Regions from separate parts of the Homo sapiens genome. Here region 2 is linked to region 1. Evidence: fine-mapped expression QTL. Tissue or cell type: whole blood. Region 1 holds a variant in brackets; the other region holds the start of a gene. All regions are shown on one strand. Distances are between the middles of the regions.

The links. PIP is the estimated chance that this variant, and not a neighbour inherited with it, causes the effect.
Region 2: DSTYK starts here. The variant in region 1 is fine-mapped to the expression of DSTYK in whole blood (INTERVAL, PIP 0.91).

Annotation. Positions count from the first base shown.
Region 1 is chr1:205,066,905-205,072,106 of GRCh38, reverse strand. CNTN2 (contactin 2) reads right to left here. Exons shown (of 23, transcript NM_005076.5): 16 at 4,857-5,006; 17 at 2,546-2,616; 18 at 2,046-2,280; 19 at 1,569-1,681; 20 at 1-160. Among named protein-coding and RNA genes, the nearest start is that of TMEM81, 15 kb to the left of the region's middle. The variant G/A (reference allele first, on the strand shown) is at 2,504.
Region 2 is chr1:205,209,059-205,214,188 of GRCh38, reverse strand. DSTYK (dual serine/threonine and tyrosine protein kinase) reads left to right here and starts at 2,487. Exons shown (of 13, transcript NM_015375.3): 1 at 2,487-2,918. The coding sequence starts at 2,654. RefSeq lists a cis regulatory region at 29, an enhancer at 1-101 and silencers at 2,558-2,687, 3,108-3,157.

The DNA.
Region 1 (5,202 bases):
AAGGGCTGGCAGGCCCAGTGCCAGCCCGGTTGTAGGCCCTCACGGTCACATGGTACTTGGTGTTGGGATGCAGGCCGCTGACTCGGGCACTGGTGTCCAGCCCTGCTGTCCTCACTCGGTCCGCAGCTGCTTCTTTGTCCCCAGCTTTCCAGTAGCGGATCTGAAGGAGGCGGGGGTACCCAAGGGGTAGTAGTCAAGCCCAGGATCTCAGGGCTGCCCCGGCCCCCACATTCTGTTCCTCTCTTGCTCATCCTGGTCCCTGTGACCCAGTCTTAGGCCTCAGAACCTGGAGACTAGATCATGAGCACCCAGACAGCAGGGCCATGTGGGTGTGAGTCCCTGCTGTCTGTTGGTGCGTAGTTCAAGGAAGGTGCTCAAGACATGGGTCAGGGAGGGAGCTGGTGGCACAGGCTCAACCTAGCAATGGCCTGCTGGAACCCATTTCATTTCATTAACTTGGGGGGCTACCGTGGGCATTCTGCTAAGGGACAGAAAATGCTTATTTGTATTGCAAAGTAGTCCCCTGGCCCTAAGCAAGCTTCTGAAGGTTGCCTAATAAATGCAAACCCATTTTCATGGTAATCATAGCATGAAGACCTGCTAAATATGCTTTCAAAGGCAGAGGCAAGGGCAGAGTTTGGAATTATCTCCACACTGTGGCTTGCCTAAGCTATTGTACTCAAATCTAGAGTACTCTACTAGAATGAACTTGTGCTATCACTAGTAGGCCCAGCTTGATGGTTTCTTCTTGCTTTTCCTTCTTTCTCTCCCTCTTGCTTCCCATCACTTGCCATCTGCTCCACAGGTACCCCTTTGTGGAGTTCTCAGTGGGCCCAGGACTCAGGCCAGACTGCTGGGCCCCAGATTCCCCCGGGACAGGATGATCAACTGTCCATAGAGCGGCTCAGGCTGTTTTCTGTGCAGCCCTGGACAGGCCAGCCTGAATGGGCTCTGGGATGAAAGGGGCAGGCCATGCCCCTTCCCAGAACCTGTTCCTTCTACCCTCTCAGCTTCCAATGCTGGCTCTAGCCAAGCATTTACTTTAAGGCTGCCTCCAGGGTCTGTCTTCCCCAATGGGCATAAGCCATGGGGTCTTTTTTTTTTTTTTTTTGAGATGGAGTCTCGCTTTGTCACCCAGGCTGGAGTGCAGTGGCGCAATCTCAGCTCACTGCAACCTCTGCCTCCTGAACGCAAGCGATTCTCCTGCCTCAGCCTCCTGAGTAGCTGGGATTACAGGCATGGGCCACCATGCCCAGCTAATTTTTGTATTTTTAGTAGAGGCGGGGCTTCACCATGTTGGCCAGGCTGGTCTCAAACTCCTGATCTCAGGAGATCTACCGCCTCAGCCTCCCAAAGTGATGGGATTACAGGCATGAGCCACCGCGCCTGGCCTGCCATGGGGTCTTAGTGAAATTTGCATTCACAGTGCTACACAGACTGGATGCTCAGTTTGCCATGTCAGCGAACCAGGGACGCCAGGAGGAATGATTAGTGGTCTGTGAGTTGTTCCCACCTGGCTTTGAAGCCCCAGCACCCCTTCCTCTCCCAAGTCCCAGGTTGGTGCTCACCTCATACCCCAGGAGGATACCATTCATGTCCTGCTGCACGGGTTCCCAGGTCACGTTCATCTCTGAGGATGAGACCCCTTTGGCCCACACCTTGGTAGGGGCCACCCTGGGCTCTGGGGACCAATACAGAATGGGTTTGGATTCCCAGGGCCCCCCTGTGTCCTGCAGAGCAGCCCCCAACCAGGATTGCCTTTGCTTAAGATTTTGGAGGAAAGCCTTCAGGATGAAGGCCGAGTGGGAGCCCCCCAAGCAATGCTCCAGGGCCCACTTCTATTCCCAGAGAGCCTCCCTTTTCCTAACCCCGAAGGGAGACAAGGTAGCAAGAGCTGGAAGTGAGGCCAATGATGTGGAACCCAGGTGTCCTCTCAACCTCCTCCTATGGAACTGAGCTGGGAGATGAGTAGCGTTCCCCCACCCCACATCCCTGTGGACAAGTGGCTGGGGTAGGGACGAGCAGGGGGCCCAGGGGCAGCCCACCTTCCTCAGCTGAGTACACGAGTGCAGTGAGGCTCTCGGGCCCATCCCCGCGGCGGTTGTAGCTGCGGATCTTGACCTCAAAGGGCGTGTAGGGCCGGACGCTCTCGTTGCTGTAGACAAAGTACTGGGCATCGGCGCCAGGCACCCGGGCGGTCTGCCAGTGAGTGCTGCCCTGCCTGCGGAAGGACAGCAGGTAGCCGAAGCCGTCTCCGTTCTGGTACTCCCGTGACATGGGCTGAGGGGCAAGAGCATGGCATGGGCGAGGGTCCGCGGCATGTGTCCCTGCCCGTTCCCTGGCCCCACCCAACCTTTGCCAAGAGTAGCGGCCCTGGACGCCTACGCCTGCAGCGTGGATTCGCGTAAGGGGCAGCGGGTGCGTGGAAGGGGGACAGGAAGTTATCCGCGTTTGAGTCAGAGCTGTGCAGTGGTCCTTTCTGCAGCTGCTCAAGCGGGAGAGG[G/A]GTCAGGGAGGAGGAGGAGGACATCTGACCCTTGCAGCTTACCGTCCAGTTGACGATGAGCTCTCCGGGGGCTCCACCTCCTCCGCTGAGTCCTGAGGGTGCCACCGAGGGGGCTGTCAAGGGCCAAGGGACACCGATATGGCTTGTTAATGAGCAAGGAAAAAATGAAAGCCCTGAGCCTGTGCCTGTAGAGCACCGTAAGATGGGAACCCCTTCAACTGGGCCCTGGGTTTGCCCCCCAGTGGTCCCTCTGAACATAGGCTTTGGAGTCAGGCAGTCCTGAAATCAAATCCCACCTCTGCCATTTACTAGCTGTGCTTCCCTGGGCAAGTCACTTAACCTTTCTGAGCCTCTGATTCTCTTCTCCATGAAGATAATCATGTTTCTCTCAGAGGCCATAATGAGAATGAAATTAGACAAGACGGTGGTTAGTATAGAGCAGATGATGCACACATGATCATTGTCCTCCTTACTCCATCAACTTAAACTAAATCACAGAGACCAACTCTCACTCGCTTTAAAATAAGGGGAATAAATAACCCAGAACTGCAGTTAATGCAAACAAACAAACAAACAAACAAACAAACAAACAAACAAAACAAACTACTTTTGGGCTCCAGGGTGATATATTATCTATTTTTCTTTTTGTTGCAGATTTAATCTCCTAATTGTCTCTAGTATTAAACAAGGCTGATATTAAAACAGGAATTTATTTCATCAGCTCCTGCAGCTTGGCAGAAAGTAACTTGGCTGGGGGTCAAAATATTTCCGTAGAGAATCCAGCAGCTGGAGATTTTTCACTTGCTTCTGATGACAATAGTTTAGGACCGTGTAATTTGCAAGAGGTACTTAAACACATTGGCCATTTGATCCTGTGAGGTGGGTGTTATTATTGCCCTTTTCAGGGTGGAAAGACTGAGGCCCAGAGCAGTTAATCAACTTGCCTAAGGTCACACAGTTAATACATGGCACAGGTAGAATCTGAACTCAGCCCTTCTCATTTTAAAGCCCATCATGTTTCCTTTGCATCACAGCTGTCTTTGTGCTCCTCAGCTACTGGGATGCTGTAAATAGAATAAAGGAGTCCCCTCATTTCTCCACATTTGACCCTCCAAGAAGTTCAGGATCAATCAAAGAAAGTGCTGCCTCTGGAATTTCTTACTCAGGAGAGGTACCAGCTAAAAATGTTGAGTGATTCTAGAAAAAGGGCCTGGAGAGTCAGTCTGGGGCATGTAGGAGAACATGTTTCAGGCAGACAAGAAGGTGGACCCTCACTACACATCCAGTGCAACAGGTCTGTAGAGGAGGTGAGGCAGGGTCCTTAATCTATGCTCCTGGTCCCAGGATCCCCGGGCTCTCATTCCAGGCCTTCCCCTGCGAATGGCTCGGAGATGGGCAGGAGCCTCTCAGCAGATGCTGACTGGAGCCTGTGCCTCCCCTACTCTCTCCTGGGTTCTTTTCTCCCCCTCCTTCTCCACTCAAGTTCTGACACCCACACGCTTTTTGCTGAGGGTTGTGGGCAGGTTATTCAATTCCATCTGCTCCCAAAGAAACCATCTAAAGGCTTGGAGACACTGGCTGCTTCCCTAGCCCCCTGCACAGAACACACACACATCTTTCACATCAACTGATTTCCTTTTTTTCTTTCTTTTTTTTTTTTTTTTTTTTTTTTTTTTGAGATGGAGTCTCGCTCTGTCGCCCAGGATGGAGTGCAGTGGTACAATCTTGGCTCACTGCAACCTCCACCTCCCGGGTTCAAGCGATTCTCCTGCTTCAGCCTCCCGAGTAGCTGGGATTTACAGGTGTGTGTCACCACGCCTGGCTAATTTTTGTATTTTTAGTAGAGACGGGGTTTCACCATGTTGGCCAGGCTGGTCTCAAACTTCTGACCTCAGGTGATCTGCCTGCCTCGGCCTCCCAAAGTGCTGGGATTACAGGCTTGAGCCACTGCGCCCAGCCAGCATTAACTGATTTCTGTAGTGCATACTCTTCCAGGAAGACATCTGTCTACCACCCCATGGTCCTGGGTTCAAGTCCAAGCTCTGTCAATGTGACTCTTCCTTTCTCCGAACTTTGGTTTTTCCACTTTTAAAAATTAAACTTAAAAAAATTATAGATGCACATGCAGTTGTAAGGTTGGCCAGTTTTTAAATGAGGAGTTTGGACTAGATGGTTTGTCCATGCAGTGGCCCTGGTCCCAACTTGGTGTTCTGTCCTCCTCTGTTTTGTGAGAGTCTGAACCCTGTGAGCAGGGTTGGAACTCAGCATAATTGCGGCTGGCTTGGCATTCCCTATAAGTGGTGCCAGGGTCTCTGCCCTGATGATAGCTTTTTGGGACACACAGGACTCTCACCTGCTTCCCTGGTCCGGATTTTGCTGGAGGGCCCACTAGGCTCCCCAGTGCCCAGAATGTTGCTGGCTATGACCCGGAACTCATAGTCCATCCAGGGGGTGAGGCCCAGCACCTGTGCAGTCTCGGCATTGCCCTCGATGTTTGCAGGATCTGCAAGGCACCAGGGAGTCCATATTCCAGCATTCGCTTATTCATCTGGGTGCAGAGGGCAGGCACTGGCCTGAATCACCCCTTATCTACCCAGCCCTCACTTCGGTACTTGCCATATACTAAGCACTCAGTACCTTTTTCAGAAATGATTGAAAAACTACTCAATTTCCCTATCTTGGTGCCTCTGCAATGCTGT
Region 2 (5,130 bases), 140 kb before region 1:
AGTAGCTGGGACAACAGGCATGCGTCACTACGTCCAGCTAATTTTTGTATTTTTAGTAGAGACGGGATTTCATTATGTTGGCCAGGATGGTCTCGAACTCTTGACCTCATGATCCACCCACCTTGGCCTCCCAAAGTGCTGGGTTTACAGGTGTGAGCCACTGTGCCCAGCCAGGAAATACTTTTCTATACCAACTTAAACCCTCTCTTCTTACCGTTCAAAACTTTATTTTCTCCATTTGTCCTTTGAATTAGATATTTGAAGAAAATATGTATTTTAATTGGTAAGTTATTATGATTTACAAAGGGCTCATTGTCACTTGCATTTTTTAAGATTTTAAATAGCAAAAAATTATTGCCTTTCTCAACAGATCAAAAATAGGTATGAGATATACTTACACATATTCAAAATGATGTACATAGATTAGTTCTTGCAGTATTGTTTTTAATATCAAAAGACTGCAAAAAACCTAAAGGTCCGCCAATAGAAGACTTGTTAAATAAAACATGCCAATCCATGTGGTAGTATGTTACACAGTTAAAAAGAATGAAACAGACCTTTATGTTTTGGTACAGAAGTCTGCAAGGCCATAATCAAATATGTATTACGTATGCTATCATTTGTATTTAAAATACATGCATACACATATATAAATACATATATAGGATCTATTTATACATGATTTATATCTACAACAGTGGTTGCCTCCTGGGAGGGGAACTAGGTGACTGGGAGGTGAACAGAAAAACTAAGAAAGACTTAGTTTTTCCTTATATATCCTTTGCACCATTTGAATTTTATACCACATTCGTGTATTACTTATTTTGAAAATAAATGCAAAGTACTAAGGAATAGTTTTTAAAAGGGTGGGCTTTGTGATATTTACCTGAAATAATGCCCTCTCTGATTACTTCCACCTATCTAAATTTTGCCCCTTCTTCAAGATAGATTCCTTTTCTGGATAACTCCAGCTTGAGTGCTCTTATCTGATCTCCTGTGCTAGAAATTCGTGTGTGTGGCAAATCATTACACATTGCTTTCTTACAGCTCTTCTATTTTAAAAATAGTATCTACTTTGTATTAAAATTCCCATTTTTAATTTTCATTTCTATTTTACTGAACCTTTGGGGATTGCATGGGGAATATAATCTTGCAAAAGAAGAATGGCTGATGGAAAATACGTGACCAAGTAAAAGGCAGAAGGGGGAGTGGGTAAATGGGAAGGAGCATGAGGCTCCCTCCTTGCAGTCAGCCCTCACAGACATTTATCAAATACAGATTCATTTGAATTAGTGACCCCTTTTTATAAAATGCTAATGCCCCTGGAAAGGTAAGGCCTTCACATCTTACAACAATTAATCCAAATATCACGACATCATTTGGCTAAGAACACCTGGGTGTTCTGCGATGAGAGGTCAGGAGAAGTAAAATTTCTGAAGCAGGACTCACAAAAATTTAAAACCAAAAGGGCTTAAAGATCTGCCATTCTAAACCCTTACTTTATAGAAGATGAAACGGGGTCTTGCCCGAGATCACAATGCAAGGTATAGGAAGAGTCCAGATCCAAACTCAAATCTCCTCTTAATTTCAGTCAAGGAACTACATCATGTAGCCTATCAGAGAAGAAGTCTGGCCTAGGTAAAAGACGGTGTCTTTCTATAGCAAGAAAGATACAGATGGGCTCTGTGCCTGGTGAAGAGGGGAGAGATAATTCAGGAAGCACAAAAGAGGTGACGTCAAGTTTTGCCCCCTTTGTAATTGTGTCCAGGAGTCTGTGACTGTGTGTGTCAATGAAAGTCCTCCATATTAGCAGAAACCAAGTTAAGATAATCAGAAATAGTTTGGAAGGCTACAAACCTCAACTTCCCCTTACCCAGTCCGGTCTCCCTACTTCAGGAACCCACTGAAGTTCAGCTTACAGCTCTTGTTGATCCTTTCACACCCTTCCTTTCCAAGTCTGGAGAAGGAAAGTTGGAAAAGGGGAACGCAATGCAAATATAAGAGATTTCCCTATTTCCAGGGTACTTTCAGCCGATTTCCAGGGTACTTTTAGCCGATTCCCCAGTATCTACTGTATCCGAAACACTAGAGAGCCACTTAGGGTAGCCATGGAGATGACTGTCTTCAGTCTTGTTTCCTTCCTTTTCTCTACTATTAACATCTTTCGCTACGATTTCGGTAAGGCCCCCCCACTTCTGCTGGCACTCAGGTCCTGCAGCTCCTCCCTCTCCTCAGGGACGCTCATAGAGGGATTAGGAACACTTTTTAAAATGAAGAGAGCGCGAAAACACAAGAACGAGTGAGGGTTTTCTCCAAAAGGGATCAGTCCCATCCACAGCCTCCCCTTCTCCAGCCTTGAGGTTTTGGCGTTTGGTCCCAGCCCGGACTGCAAGTCCCAGGAGACCCCGCGGCGAGGGTGTCCTCCAGCGATCCTTCCCTCACGCTTCTGGATAGTGGAGAGAAAGGTTCCGATAGCGGCGCACTGCGGTTTGGTTTGTTTGCAACGGCAGTGACGGAGGTTGGGAGCCAGGCTGACTGCAGGCGGGGGCGTCAGGAGGCGGATTCCTCCTCCCTTCGGCACTGGGGGGCGGGGAGGAGGGAGGCCGGGCCTGCGGCCGGGGACCGAGCCGCAAAGACAGAGCGGGCAGAGGCGATGGAGGGCGACGGGGTGCCATGGGGCAGCGAGCCCGTCTCGGGTCCCGGCCCCGGCGGCGGCGGAATGATCCGCGAGCTGTGCCGGGGCTTCGGCCGCTACCGCCGCTACCTGGGACGGCTGCGACAGAACCTGCGCGAGACCCAGAAGTTCTTCCGCGACATCAAGTGCTCCCACAACCACACTTGTCTCTCCTCCCTCACGGGCGGCGGCGGGGCCGAGCGCGGCCCTGCAGGCGATGTCGCCGAAACCGGGCTGCAGGCGGGTAAGGAGGGCAGCCCGGAGGGAGAGAGGGCAGGAGAGGCAAATCGGAGGACGGACCGCACCCCTGCCCTGCAAAACAAGCCCGAGTCTTCTCGGGCAGGCGGAAAGGGGCAGTCGTGTCGTGTGGCCGGGTCCCCGGGCATGGGCCGGCCGGATCTGGGATACCTTGGGAGGGCATCCTTCTGAGGAGGGGAGGAAGGGGCCCGCTGGGGGACCGGGAGCCAGGGGCAACCGAGGGCCGGAGTTCCCGGAGCGGGACCCCGGGGACCGGGGTGTGCGCTGACGGACCTGGGGCGGGCCGGCGTTCGGAGAGGGTAGCAGTTAATCCGAGGAGTGGGGAAAGTTGCTCTGAGTTGGGGGCGGGCGCGTGCGCCGTTGTGGGTCAGAGCCCCAGTTTAGAGATGGAGCAGAGGCGGCAGCGAGTCCCGGGAGTCCGAGGAGGCCATGGGACTGTAGTCGGGTGTGTGGGTTTGATGATGTATGTGAAATGTGTTCACACCAATCATGAGGCAGCTCTGTGAAGAGGGGACATTCTCTAAATAGGGTTGGGGGTCGCCAGAGGAAATCATATCTGATGGGTGCCACGGAATTGCCAGAGATGTTGCTCATGCTTAAGGTGAAGAAGAGAGGGAAGGGATCATTTTGGTCCTGAGCCAATGGAGAACTAGCTACTCTTGTTCTTTCTTGCATGATTCTTTCTAGGATGTGCCAGAGGCCCCCAAACACTTAAAATCGTGCAGTCTTTAATCTTTCCTAACGTCTTGCTTCCTTTTAAACTGCTGTTGGTGGGGAACTGGAGGATTTGTTAACTACTGCGTCTAATTAGGAAATAACTTTAGATTGGAAGGGAGAAGGGACTGACATTCCACGTAGATAGATATCTTGGGGACAAAACAGCAAAGAAGTCTGTGGGTTTAATTTAGTGATTCTCAAACTAAAGTGTGTATTAAACTCACCCCAGGGGCGTATTAAAAATGCCATGTCTCGTGCTCTAGCTCATAAATTCCTATTGAATAGGTGTGTGAAGTGGGTCCTAAGAATCTAATTTAACATGAAAAGACCCTGAAGAGGCCGGGCGCGGTGGCTCACGTCTGTAATCCCAGCACTTTGGGAGGCAGAGGCGGGGCGGATCACTTGAGGTCAGGAATTCGGGACCAGCCTGGCCAACATGGTGAAACCCCGTCTCTACCAAAAATATAAGAAACTAGCCAGGTGTGGTGGTTGAGGCCTGTAATCTCAGCCACTGGGGAGGCTGAGGCAGGAGAATCGCTTGAAACCAGGCGGCGGAGGTTGCAGTGAGCAGAGATTGTGCCACTGCACTCCACCCTGTGCGACGGAGCAAGACTCTGTCTCAATAATAATAATAATAATAATAATAGTAATAATAAAAGACACTGGGGAAGGTGATGCAGGTGGTCCGTTAAAATACTTTCAGAACCATGAATTTAGATGCTCATAGCAAATTTGAACACAAGGCTTAGAACTGGATGAATTGTTCTGACTTTGCGTGTTAGGTCTTATATTCCCAAAGTTTTGCGCTTAATATCCTACATCCGACTGGGAATCCAGAAATGGTGATAAAAATAAGATACTAAGATCATGACAGTATCAGAAAAACTAGTAGTTTCAGAAAAACTAGTCATCCCCCTCCTTTTATGTTACAAGGTAAAATAAGGCTTTTTAAATTCCTATCCAAACCAACTAAATGGAACGGTATCATTTAGGACCCTGTCATGATCTTAGTATCTTATTTTTATCACCATTTCTGGGGATGACTAGTTTTTCTGAAACTAGTCTTTGACATCTTACGTCCAGAAATATACTGTCCTGGAATGGACTTGTAGAGAGAACCAGTATCTGTGAGGCTACCAGAAAACAGCTGATGGGAAGGGCTAATGTTTTCTGAGACGATCCCCAGAATGTGTACTTTCACCCGCACCCATAACAGTGCTTTCCAGAGGTGTCTCCTGCTCGGAAGTTTCTCTCACAGCTTATCTTAAAAAGCCCTTTATTGCTGTTTTTATTTTAAAACAACTATTTATTTTAGACTTGCTTCTAAAACAAAGAGAATTGATTAACCTCAGAGAGATGGAGGTTTTCAAGGCACTTTGGTTGGCTGTTGTTTTTATTCTTTAAAAAACAACTTAAGACATACAAATATACCTTTGCATTTCACTTCATTGGCTTTTCCAGTTGACTGCATCATGAACTGA